Homo sapiens: one gene and its partners. The protein of the gene in region 1 purifies or fractionates together with the protein of each later gene. This does not show direct contact. Each region holds a gene or a part of one and is shown on either strand. Other genes may lie near its edges.

The links.
Region 2: the proteins of USP3 (region 1) and ZFAND6 fractionate together in Homo sapiens (co-fractionation; one large-scale study listed by BioGRID). This does not show direct contact.
Region 3: the proteins of USP3 (region 1) and GNAL purify together in Homo sapiens (affinity purification with mass spectrometry; one large-scale study listed by BioGRID and IntAct). This does not show direct contact.

The regions. Positions count from the first base shown.
Region 1 is NC_000015.10:63,507,514-63,511,172, reverse strand, and holds part of USP3 (ubiquitin carboxyl-terminal hydrolase 3), read right to left. Parts: intron 1-3,659. UniProt on the Homo sapiens protein: Deubiquitinase that plays a role in several cellular processes including transcriptional regulation, cell cycle progression or innate immunity.
Region 2 is NC_000015.10:80,062,521-80,066,179, forward strand, and holds part of ZFAND6 (AN1-type zinc finger protein 6), read left to right. Parts: intron 1-3,659. UniProt on the Homo sapiens protein: Involved in regulation of TNF-alpha induced NF-kappa-B activation and apoptosis. Involved in modulation of 'Lys-48'-linked polyubiquitination status of TRAF2 and decreases association of TRAF2 with RIPK1.
Region 3 is NC_000018.10:11,883,690-11,886,309, forward strand, and holds the end of GNAL (guanine nucleotide-binding protein G(olf) subunit alpha), read left to right. Parts: 3' UTR 1-755; coding exon of another isoform or gene 756-938; 3' UTR 939-1,339; coding exon of another isoform or gene 1,340-1,354; 3' UTR 1,355-1,986; downstream 1,987-2,620. Other genes in the region: MPPE1 (metallophosphoesterase 1), read right to left, coding at 756-938, 1,987-2,127. UniProt on the Homo sapiens protein: Guanine nucleotide-binding protein (G protein) involved as transducer in olfactory signal transduction controlled by G protein-coupled receptors (GPCRs).

The DNA of each region.
Region 1 (3,659 bases):
TGTCTCAGTTTCATAATCAATAAAATAGGAAAAACTACAAGGATGAATAATTAATTAAATTAGTCAGGATTAAATGCTAGCAAACTGCTTTGAAGTTACTTTATGTTGTTCTCAGTTATCTTCCTACTCAGTAAAACTAATAGATGAGAAAACATCTGGAATTACTATAGATAATCACATCTGCAGACTCACAGCAGTTAAAAAGACGATCTCTACAAATTTCTAAGCCAAAGTTCATTCAACGACCCCAAAGATTTTAAGATACAACCACAATGAACAATTTTAGGTGAATTTCTTTTCAGTCTCAAGGACACCTATTCTTACCTACATTCTCAAAAGAAACCACTACACAGAAATCTCAGAGCATCTTGAGGGGTCTTGGCACAAGACAATTCTAGGTAAGATGAACAAGCTGTTACTGTTGTTAATGCTATTCTCAGCATTCTAAACTGTCAATCAAGGTAAGCTTAATCACAAACACACCCTCCAAAAAGTACTAGCCCCTACTGAGAACCCATCAAAGTACTTCCTTCCAAGCCATCTGTCCAGGAAAGCTCTATTAACACACCTAGAATGCAATTGCTCTCCTGTCTAAAGAGGCAATGAATAAACATAAAATATCAAAATATGTTAAACAGCATACCTTTTCCACTTCAAACAATGATAATCTACCGACTAAATCTATTTATTTCAATGCCTTGGTTGAACACAAACCTGTATGTATGTAGGTCAGAGACTGCAGCTTAATCAAAGGAGACTAACATTTTGTTTTCAAAGAAGGAAAAATATTAAAAACAAACAAACAAGCTCAAGAAGGGGAGAAAAGCTCAAAAAGAAAAAAAACGAGCAGGTTAGGTTAGGGGAAATGTACATGTTAATCAGCTCCTGATGGAAGAGGGACTCAAATTTTAAAACAGGAATTTAAATGACTCACTGAGCTACACACTAAATTACTCACTGGTCTACTCACTGAGCTGCAAACACTATAAAAACATAAGTATTTCTAAATCTAGCTTGAAGGATCCAAAATCAATCTTTTATATTCCAGTGGAGAAGGAAATTACATACATTTCAATGAGGAAAAAGGAGGCTGTTACACGAGCCTAAGGCTAATGGTGTACAAGCAAAGAATGAGAATAAATTATTTTGAGGATAAATAACAGGAAACCACACCAAAGAGTTCGAATTCTTCCCCCAACTCCATCATTTCTTCTGCTTAGACCATGAAGGATGTTCTGTATACACTATTAAGCATATTATTAGGGAAAGAACTTCTCATCAATGTGTCAAAACTTCTTCACAACAAGTAAATGTTAGGCTCAATCTCTATACTGAAGCTTCTTTAAACAAAACACATACATGGAGCACATTCTAAATTTCACACATTTCACATCCATGAGCAATCATTTAGAGACTCTAGAAATAAGCTGAGATTGCTCTAAGATTCTGGGGGACGGGGTTGGGGAGGAATACTGCAGAAAGACTAGAAAGACATTTGACTTAAGCTTTATAAATATTACCAAAAAAGTTTAAATTCTTCAGAAGGATATATAAAACTCAAATACTACTTTTTAGAATTAATGTGAAAAAAGTATCACCTGTCCACTGATTTTTAACTACCCCATCCACATTTACAACTAAATTGTCCACCTGCCCATCTATAAATACAGACTGCCAAAAGAACACAAATTCATTGTGATAACAACACTGCAGATGGTCATTTGCTCACAATCCAGCCAACGTTTACTGACTAAAATACTGGGAGTGCGGGCTAGTGAAAGCATTCTGGGGAAAGTTCACTCTGCGTTTATTTTCAACATAAAGACCCTGCCAGACACATCTAAGTGATAGTTCCTTTATTTATCAGGCAAATATTTACTAATTGCTCTATTAAGTATTAGGCACTTAATAAAGACATCATAGAATGTTACTAAAAAGCAGTAAAAGCATTTGACCTAATGACAAGGAAATGACTGATTGTATTTAGAAAATTTAGTCCACTGGGCAAACGAGTGTTAAATGTAGGTTGTGGAGAAATACGATACAAAATAACCCATCACTCCATCAAGGTTGATTTCTTCTCTTTATCACAACCTGATCAGTCCATTACAAATTTATTACCACTGACAACCAATAATCAACACCTCATCCTACTGAATGGATCTCTTAAAAAAGGGTTTATCTCCAGTATTTTGGGTGGAATTATCTGCAGTTTTTGGTGCAAAATTGCAGAACATTTACTTGATCTACACTTACTTTTCTTGGGTAGAGTAATATGAAGGCAAGTGTGTACTGAAAACTTAAAGAGGCACTCTCAACTCATTGAAGAATTAATCAGGGAAAAATTAGCATGCCTATCCTACTAAATATCTCTAATTTAACTGGCTGTTTAACCCAAACCCTCAAGTTCAAATGCTTGGTCCTTGGCTTTCCTTAGTTATCAAAACACTTGCATTCAGGGCATCTTTTTAAACAATTTTTGTTTTTTCCCACTGGTTAAACTCTTTTACCCACAAAAATAAGGAATGCCCAAGCCTCCAACTTCTGAAAATAACATCTGGTATGTGCACATAACAAAAAGCTTGAGAGAATGCCCTTTTATTTAAAACTTTTTCATTTTAAACTAGAATCCCTTAAGCAACAATTAGACATAAATCAGCCTTTACGTTATTAGGAGATAGCTATTTTCAACATTTACCTTAAACCACATGGATGTATCTTCTAACTAGTTAGCTTCCTGTCTCTCCCCCAGCTAGATTAGACTGTTAACTTTTTTGGCAGCAAAGGACTACTAGAGCCCATGCTCTATTTCCCAGCTAATACATTTCAAAAACCTCAGGTCTCTACAGAAACATAAACGTTGGTAGCCTTAAGGATTTCTCTAATTTTTTAAAGTTATTTTGATATGAGCAGGTATCCTTAACTGTTAACTATAGCTTACACAAGTGGGTTCTCAAAGTGTGGTCCTGGACCCCTGAAAGTTTCCAGGACCCATTCAGGGGATCCAGAAGGTCAAAACAATTTTCATACATAATATTTAAGATGTTACTTTTGTTTACAGTCATTCTCTCACAAGCATGCAGTGGGGTGTTCCTGAGGCTGCATGATGTGACATCTCAAGAGACTGAATGCAGAAGCAATGTAAGAATCCAGCTGTCTTCTATAAAGCTGAACAAAGAGTTACAAAAAGGCAAAATAATGCCATTCTTCCCACTAAATTTTTGTTTTGAAAAACATTTTACATAAACTGTCAATTTATGTTATGGGTGTGGGTCTATTATTATTTGTAAGCATATTAATAAATACATATTTTAAGTTTTTCTCAGTTTTAATTTCTAATAAACATCATCAACAGATATAAGCTACACGAAGGCTCTTCAGGTGCTCAACAATTTTTAAGAGTGTAAAGGGGTCCTAAGATCAAAAAGTGTAAGAACCACTGTCATACACAATTATATAACCCAACACACAGTGCCTTCCATGGATAAGAAGCTCATGCTAATTCTGAAGTATAATTACTTCTTACTTCTTGTAATCTTGTTGAGTTCTGTATCTCCCTGTAAAGCATCATTCAGCATAAAGCCAGTCTGTTCTAGTCCCCATTTAATGGGCTTTGGATATTTAATTATTCAGAGTCCTCTTTACAAAGATGTTCTGAC
Region 2 (3,659 bases), about 17 Mb from region 1:
TTATGTGTTTCATGTTTCATTCATGTATGTAAGTGTGAATTTACATGTAATTTTGAATAACCTTTTTGTTTGAAGGCATGGGAGTAGAGATGGTTTCATTTTTTCTATATGTAGCTTGCAGACAAATATCAGGATGCTTTGTTTTGGTAGGGCTGTATTCTGCTTTTAAAAACCTTATTTTTTATTTAATTATAAGGACAATGTGTATATGGGGTTTTCCCCCTCAAACTTGAGAAAGAATAGAAAGTTACTAAGAAAAGCCACCTATAACACCATGATAGATAACTATTATTAACATTTTGTCAGGTATACCCCTGGTCTTTATGTGTGTATTCTTAATATCCTAAACTATTAAGAGTCCATTCTAAACACTCTCAGCCTGGCTCTTTCTTAAGAACTTACCGAAATGTAATCTGCCTCACCATCTTATTTCATATAAGATGATAATAGAAGTCATCTGTTACCATTGCTTCAACTTTTCTACTCTTCTGCTTCATTTAAATGTGTAAATTTGTAAATTACAGTATCTTACTCTCTGACTCAAAACCTCCCAGTAGCTTTTCAATATACCAAATAAAATTGAAACCTCTTACTGTGGCTTATATACCTCAGACCAGCAAAGTCCACTAGAAATACAACGTTAGTCACAAATGGGAGCTACATTAAGTAATTTAAAATTTTCTGGTAGCCACATTATGAAAAAAAGAGAAACTGGTGAAAATACGTTTTATGTAACCCAAAAACTATTATTTCAACATGTAATCAGTATAAGAAATTGTTGATGGGATAGTTGTCTTTTTTTAGACTGTCTTTATAATTTGGTGTGTATTTTCCACTTAAAGTACATCTCAATTCAGACTAGCTACATTTCTTTTTTTGTATTTTTTTTGAGACAGAGTCTTGCTCTGTCTCCCAGGCTGGAGTGCAACGGTGCGATCTCAGCTCACCGCAACCTCTGTCTCCTAGGTTGAAGTGATTCTTGTTCCTCAGCCTCCCGAGTAGCTGAGACTACAGACATGCACCACCACGCCCAGCTAATTTTTTTTTTTTTTTTTGAGACGGAATCTTACTCTGTTATACAGGCTAGAGTGCAGTGGCACAATCTCGGCTCACAGCAACCTGGGTTCAAGCGATTCTCCTGCCTCAGCCTCTCCCCAGTAGCTGGGACTACAGGTGCATGCCACTACACCCAGCTAATTTTTGTATTTTTAGTAGAGAGGGGGTTTCAGCATGTTGGCCAGCCTGGTCTCAAACTCCTGACCTCAGGTGATCCACCTGCCTAGGCCTCCCAAAATGCTAGGGTTACAGGTGTGAGCCACTGCACCCGGCCTAAATTTTTATGTTTTTAGTAGAGACCGCGTTTCACCATGTTGGCCAGGCTGGTCTTGAACTCCTGGCCTCAAATGATCTGCCTGCCTTGGCCTCCCAAAGTGCTGGGATTACAGGCGTGAGCCACCATGTCTGACCCAGACTGGCCACATTTCAAGTGCTCGGTAGCCACATATGACTAGTGGTTACCCACATGGACAGTTCCATCTTATAAAAGTACTATAACCTAGTTATCTGTTGGGTGTAACTTAAGTTTATTATTTTTTTCTTATTATTATAAGTAGTGTGATAAATATAAGAGCTACTACTATGTATTTGTCATTGTTTCTTTCGGATCTAGTCTGTCTTACAATCACTGAATCAAAGCATATGAACATTTCTTAAAGTCTTTTCATAAATATTGCCAAATTTTGTCCTTAAAAGTTTGACTAACATCAAACTTTAATATCAAATTTGACTAAAAATATGACAGAATACACATTTCTTGTATATCTTTACCAGCATTATCTGTCTATCCATCTACCCTCCATCTTTCCTTCCCTTTCTATAGGAATCATCATATATTTCTTTAATTAATTATGATGGTAAATAAACCTGGATATTGGACATCTTCTAGTTTATCTTTTGCCCATTTTGGCTGGTGTTTTATATTTGTGATACCCTTTTAAACTTTTTATATTTTTAGGATTTAGGATAGCAACTCTGCTATATACTGCAAATATACATATACACACAAATATATATACACATGTATACATACACACACACACACACACACACGTATGTTTGGGTTTTTTAAAATGTTTTTTGAGACACGGTCTTGCTCTATCACCCAGGATAGAGGGCAGTGGTGCAGTCATGGTTCACTGAGGCCTCTACTTCCTGGGCTGAAGTGATTATCCCGCCTCAGCCTCCTGTGTAACTGGGATTACAGGCGTTCCCCACCATGCCTGGCAATTTTTTGTGGAGATGGGGTTTTACCATGTTGCCCAGAATGGTTTCAAACTCCTGGGCTCAAGCAATTTACCTGCCTTGGCCTCCCTAAGTGCTGGGATTACAGGTATGAGCCACTGGGCCTGGCATGCAAATATTTTTCCTGGCTCTTCATTTACCTAACAGTGTTGTCTTTTCTCTTGCTCTCTCTCTCTCCCCCTTTTTTTTTTTTTTTTTTTTAACAAAACAAAAAAACAGGCAAGGGTTTTTACTTTTTAAGAAAATTAGGTTAATACTTTCTTTTATGGCTTCTACTTTGCTTTTATATTTAAAGGCTTCTCCTACCCAGTTAAGTTTTCTTCTAGTTCTTTTACGGTTTCATATTTCACATCTGTCTTTTTCTGTTCATCTGGGATTTATTTTGACATATGTGAAGTGAAATAACCTCCCTTATTTTTCCTTAAAAATTTTGGCCCCACTAAAAAAAAAAACAACTTGTTGCCTTGAAATAAAGCTGCCTTTATCATATGTTAAATGCACATCTTCTTGGTTCTTTTTAGGTTTTATTGAAATATCAATGATTTGGTACCAGTGTACACTTGTATACATGGGGCATGGTATTTTCATTTTGTAAACAAGTGTGTTTCTGTTATTGTTTAAGTCTCCCCCCCATCCCCCTTTTTTGGTTGTTGCTTTGTTAGTCCTCAGATTTTTTAGTTTATTCTTTTGGGGCTTCAAATTAGTTTTGGTTTTGATTTTTTTTTTTTTTTTTTTTTTTTTGGAGACAGAGTCTTACTCTGTTGCCCAGGCTGGAGTGTGATGGCATGATCTTGGCTCACTGCAGCCTTTGTCTCCAGGTTCAAGTGATTCTCATGCCTCAGCCTTCTGAGTAGTTGGGATTACAGGGGTGTGCCACCACACCTGGCTAATTTTTGTGTTTTTAGTAGAGATAGGGTTTCATCGTGTTGGCCAAGCTGGTCTCGAACCCCTGACCTCAGGTGATCTACCCACCTCGGCCTCCCAAAGTGCTGGGATTACAGGCGTGACCCACTGTGCCTGGCCAGTTTTGAATTTTTTAACTTAAAAAAATTGCAACTTTTATAATATTTTATGTTTTATAATGAAAAAATGTAATCCTATTGAATGTTCCTCTGAGCATAGCTTTAGCTATATTACTTAAATTTTGATGAGTAATATTTTTATGTTTATATATTTAAAAACCCCTGCAGTTGCAGTTTTTATTTTTTCAACAAGTATTTAAGCACCTGCTCCATCTAGACATTCTGCCAAGTGCTGAGGACACAACTATGTACAAGACAAGGTCTCTTGCCTTCATCCAGTTACAGTCTGTCAATATAGACAAACCAACGAATAAAGAATTTTCAGATTTCGACAAG
Region 3 (2,620 bases), on another chromosome or scaffold:
TTTTTTTTTTTTAAATATATTTTTTGAGACGGAGTCTCACTCTGTTGCCCAGGCTGGAGTGCAGTGGCATGATCTTGGCTCACTGCAACCTCCGCCTCCCGGGCTCAAGGGATTCTCCTGCCTCAGCCTCAGCTGGTATTATAGGCACTTGCTACCATGCTTGGCTAATTTTTGTATTTCTAGCGGAGACGAGGTTTCACCATGTTGGCCAGGCTGGTCTTGAACTCCTGACCTCAAGTGATCCACCCGCCTCAGCCTCCCAAAGTGCTGGGATTACAGGTGTGAGCCACTGTGCCCGGCCACATCTGTACTTTTAAGGGTACAGCTTTACAGTACATAGGAATTTGAGAACCACTTCACAGGAAGAGGGAAACAGCCCAATATTTATTTATGTATACACATAATCCCAAGTGTGTGCTGGGGCCACCAGGCCCTTCCTGGGGGAACAAGGACTGTCGTGCATGTGAGTGACGACATTAATAGCATTTACATACTGTACAGATGCAACCTTTGATGATACATATATTTGATAAAAATGAGAAAACAGATTTGTTGTAGAGTACCTGTCCACTTTTATAGCATGAGAACAGTACAATCAACTATTTATTTTGCAGTTACTCATTTCAGTGATTGAGAATTTCTGTGCTGTGCAGAGAGACGGCCTGTAATTGGTCTCATCATCCACTTGATTCTAACATGATCTCTGCCCAAAGTTCCATTTCTTGGGCTTTGATATTTATAATGGCGCCTGCTCTTCATCTTGTCTTACGCTTTCCGAGCAAGTTCAAACCAGAAAGAAAAGGTGAGGCTAGAAGCCCAAAGTGAGTGAGTGTGAGGACCACAAGGAAGCCCACCACTCCACAGTAGATGATCAAAACCACATCCTCACGTGGGAGGTAGCACTTGGAGAGGGTGTAGTCTGTGGGCGTGATGCTACCCTGGAAAGGAGAAGGGAAAGTTATGCTGAGAGCACCAGGCACACGTTGAACACCGCAGTCTTAGAAACAGCAGAGGGAAGACTGCCTTCTCAGGTCCCCCTCAGGTGAGGCAGGGAACGGGCCCTCCTCACCTGAGACCAAGGGGGCCCAGCCTTCTCCCTGCACAGCTCACCCCCGACCAGCCCAGGCTCCAGCAGGAGAGACAAGTAAGGCCCAAGTGTGCCTGAGTGGAAAATGTCTGGGACACTGACCTGTCAAAACTGGCCCCTGGCTCACTGGGTTCCCATCAAATATAGTGGGGGATCCATAACAGAGATTCAGAGAGGCACCGTGGAGTTCCAGGGTCATCGGTCAGCGAGGAACAAGGAGGGAAAGGTGTCTTCCTGCCCCTTGATGCTCAACTAAGCATCTGTTCCCTAGAAATACATGTGTCCAGGTCGTCTCCATGGGCTTTTCTTTGCAGATACTTTTATGTGGAACAACAGTGGCAAATGTTTTCATTTACTTTGAATTTGAAAATGTTAGGGTTTCCTCCACCTTTTTATGAAGTAAAAGAACCTGTCGTACCAGCATCATGAGCTGGATGCAGGAGCCCATGGCTGAAAGGAGTTAAAACGCCCAGTGGTCATTAAGTGAAACATCTTTTATCAACCTGCAAAAGCTGCAGCGTTCTCTGCCAGGTCAAATGGGCATGTTTAGAAAATAAGAGAAGATGGCTGAGTATAGCTAATGAATAAATGGTTGTTTCTTTAGAAAATTAAACACACACAGAGTGTAAGAGGAGAGGATACGGCCCTCCCTGAAGGATAAAGTCCACCTGGACGGTGCCCTGCCCTCGCTTCTCACATTAACTGCCCAGGAATGTCATGCTGATTGGTTCCCGGAAGGGTGTTTGGCAAGGGGCAGTGTATGGAGCTACGTGTAGAAGGAGAGAAATTTGTGTGTGGCTTTTGTAAATTTTGACCGATTGCAGCAATTAAATAGTTGATTACTGTGTTGATTTAAATACTTATGAAAGCTTTCAGACAAAAATAAACTTTCACGTTACCATGATGAAACTGGGGTTGTTTCTGTTCCTCCAACTGAAAGATGGGACGCTGAGCTCGGGGACTCGGCCCCCGTGGTGCACCTCGCAGGCGCTGTGCGTGTGGCCACTGAGAACCAGGCGCGGCTGGAGCCACCACAGCAGCTGACAGTGGCCGAGAAGACAGCAAAGCAGGCTGTTAGCTCATCCTCAACCAGGCTCTCACCGCTCAGCAGACGGCCGCTGGCCATCGCTTCTTTCCTTAAATTACATACTAAATCCTTATTTTGAAGGACTGGTTTATTTTTTTCCTTAAAAATCCTTTGGTTTATTTACACTAAATCAAAGGTAAGGTCAGCCCTTTGTTCTCATCCCAGATTTTATATACTTTTTACGGTATTTTATCTTTATAAATATTTTATACATTTATCTTATAAATATTTCTTATATTTATATATTATGTATAATGTAATATGTATTATATAAATCTATATAAGAAAATGCATTTTAATTTTAATTAAGTCCCTAAAAAATTGACTTTTCAGTTCCATTCACATTTCTAAATACATTTAAGTTGGTGAAAAACTCTGAATACAAAGAATAGCTGAGACTATTACTGACTTGAGGGTAGGAAACAGAAGTAGGTTTACTGGAAAAA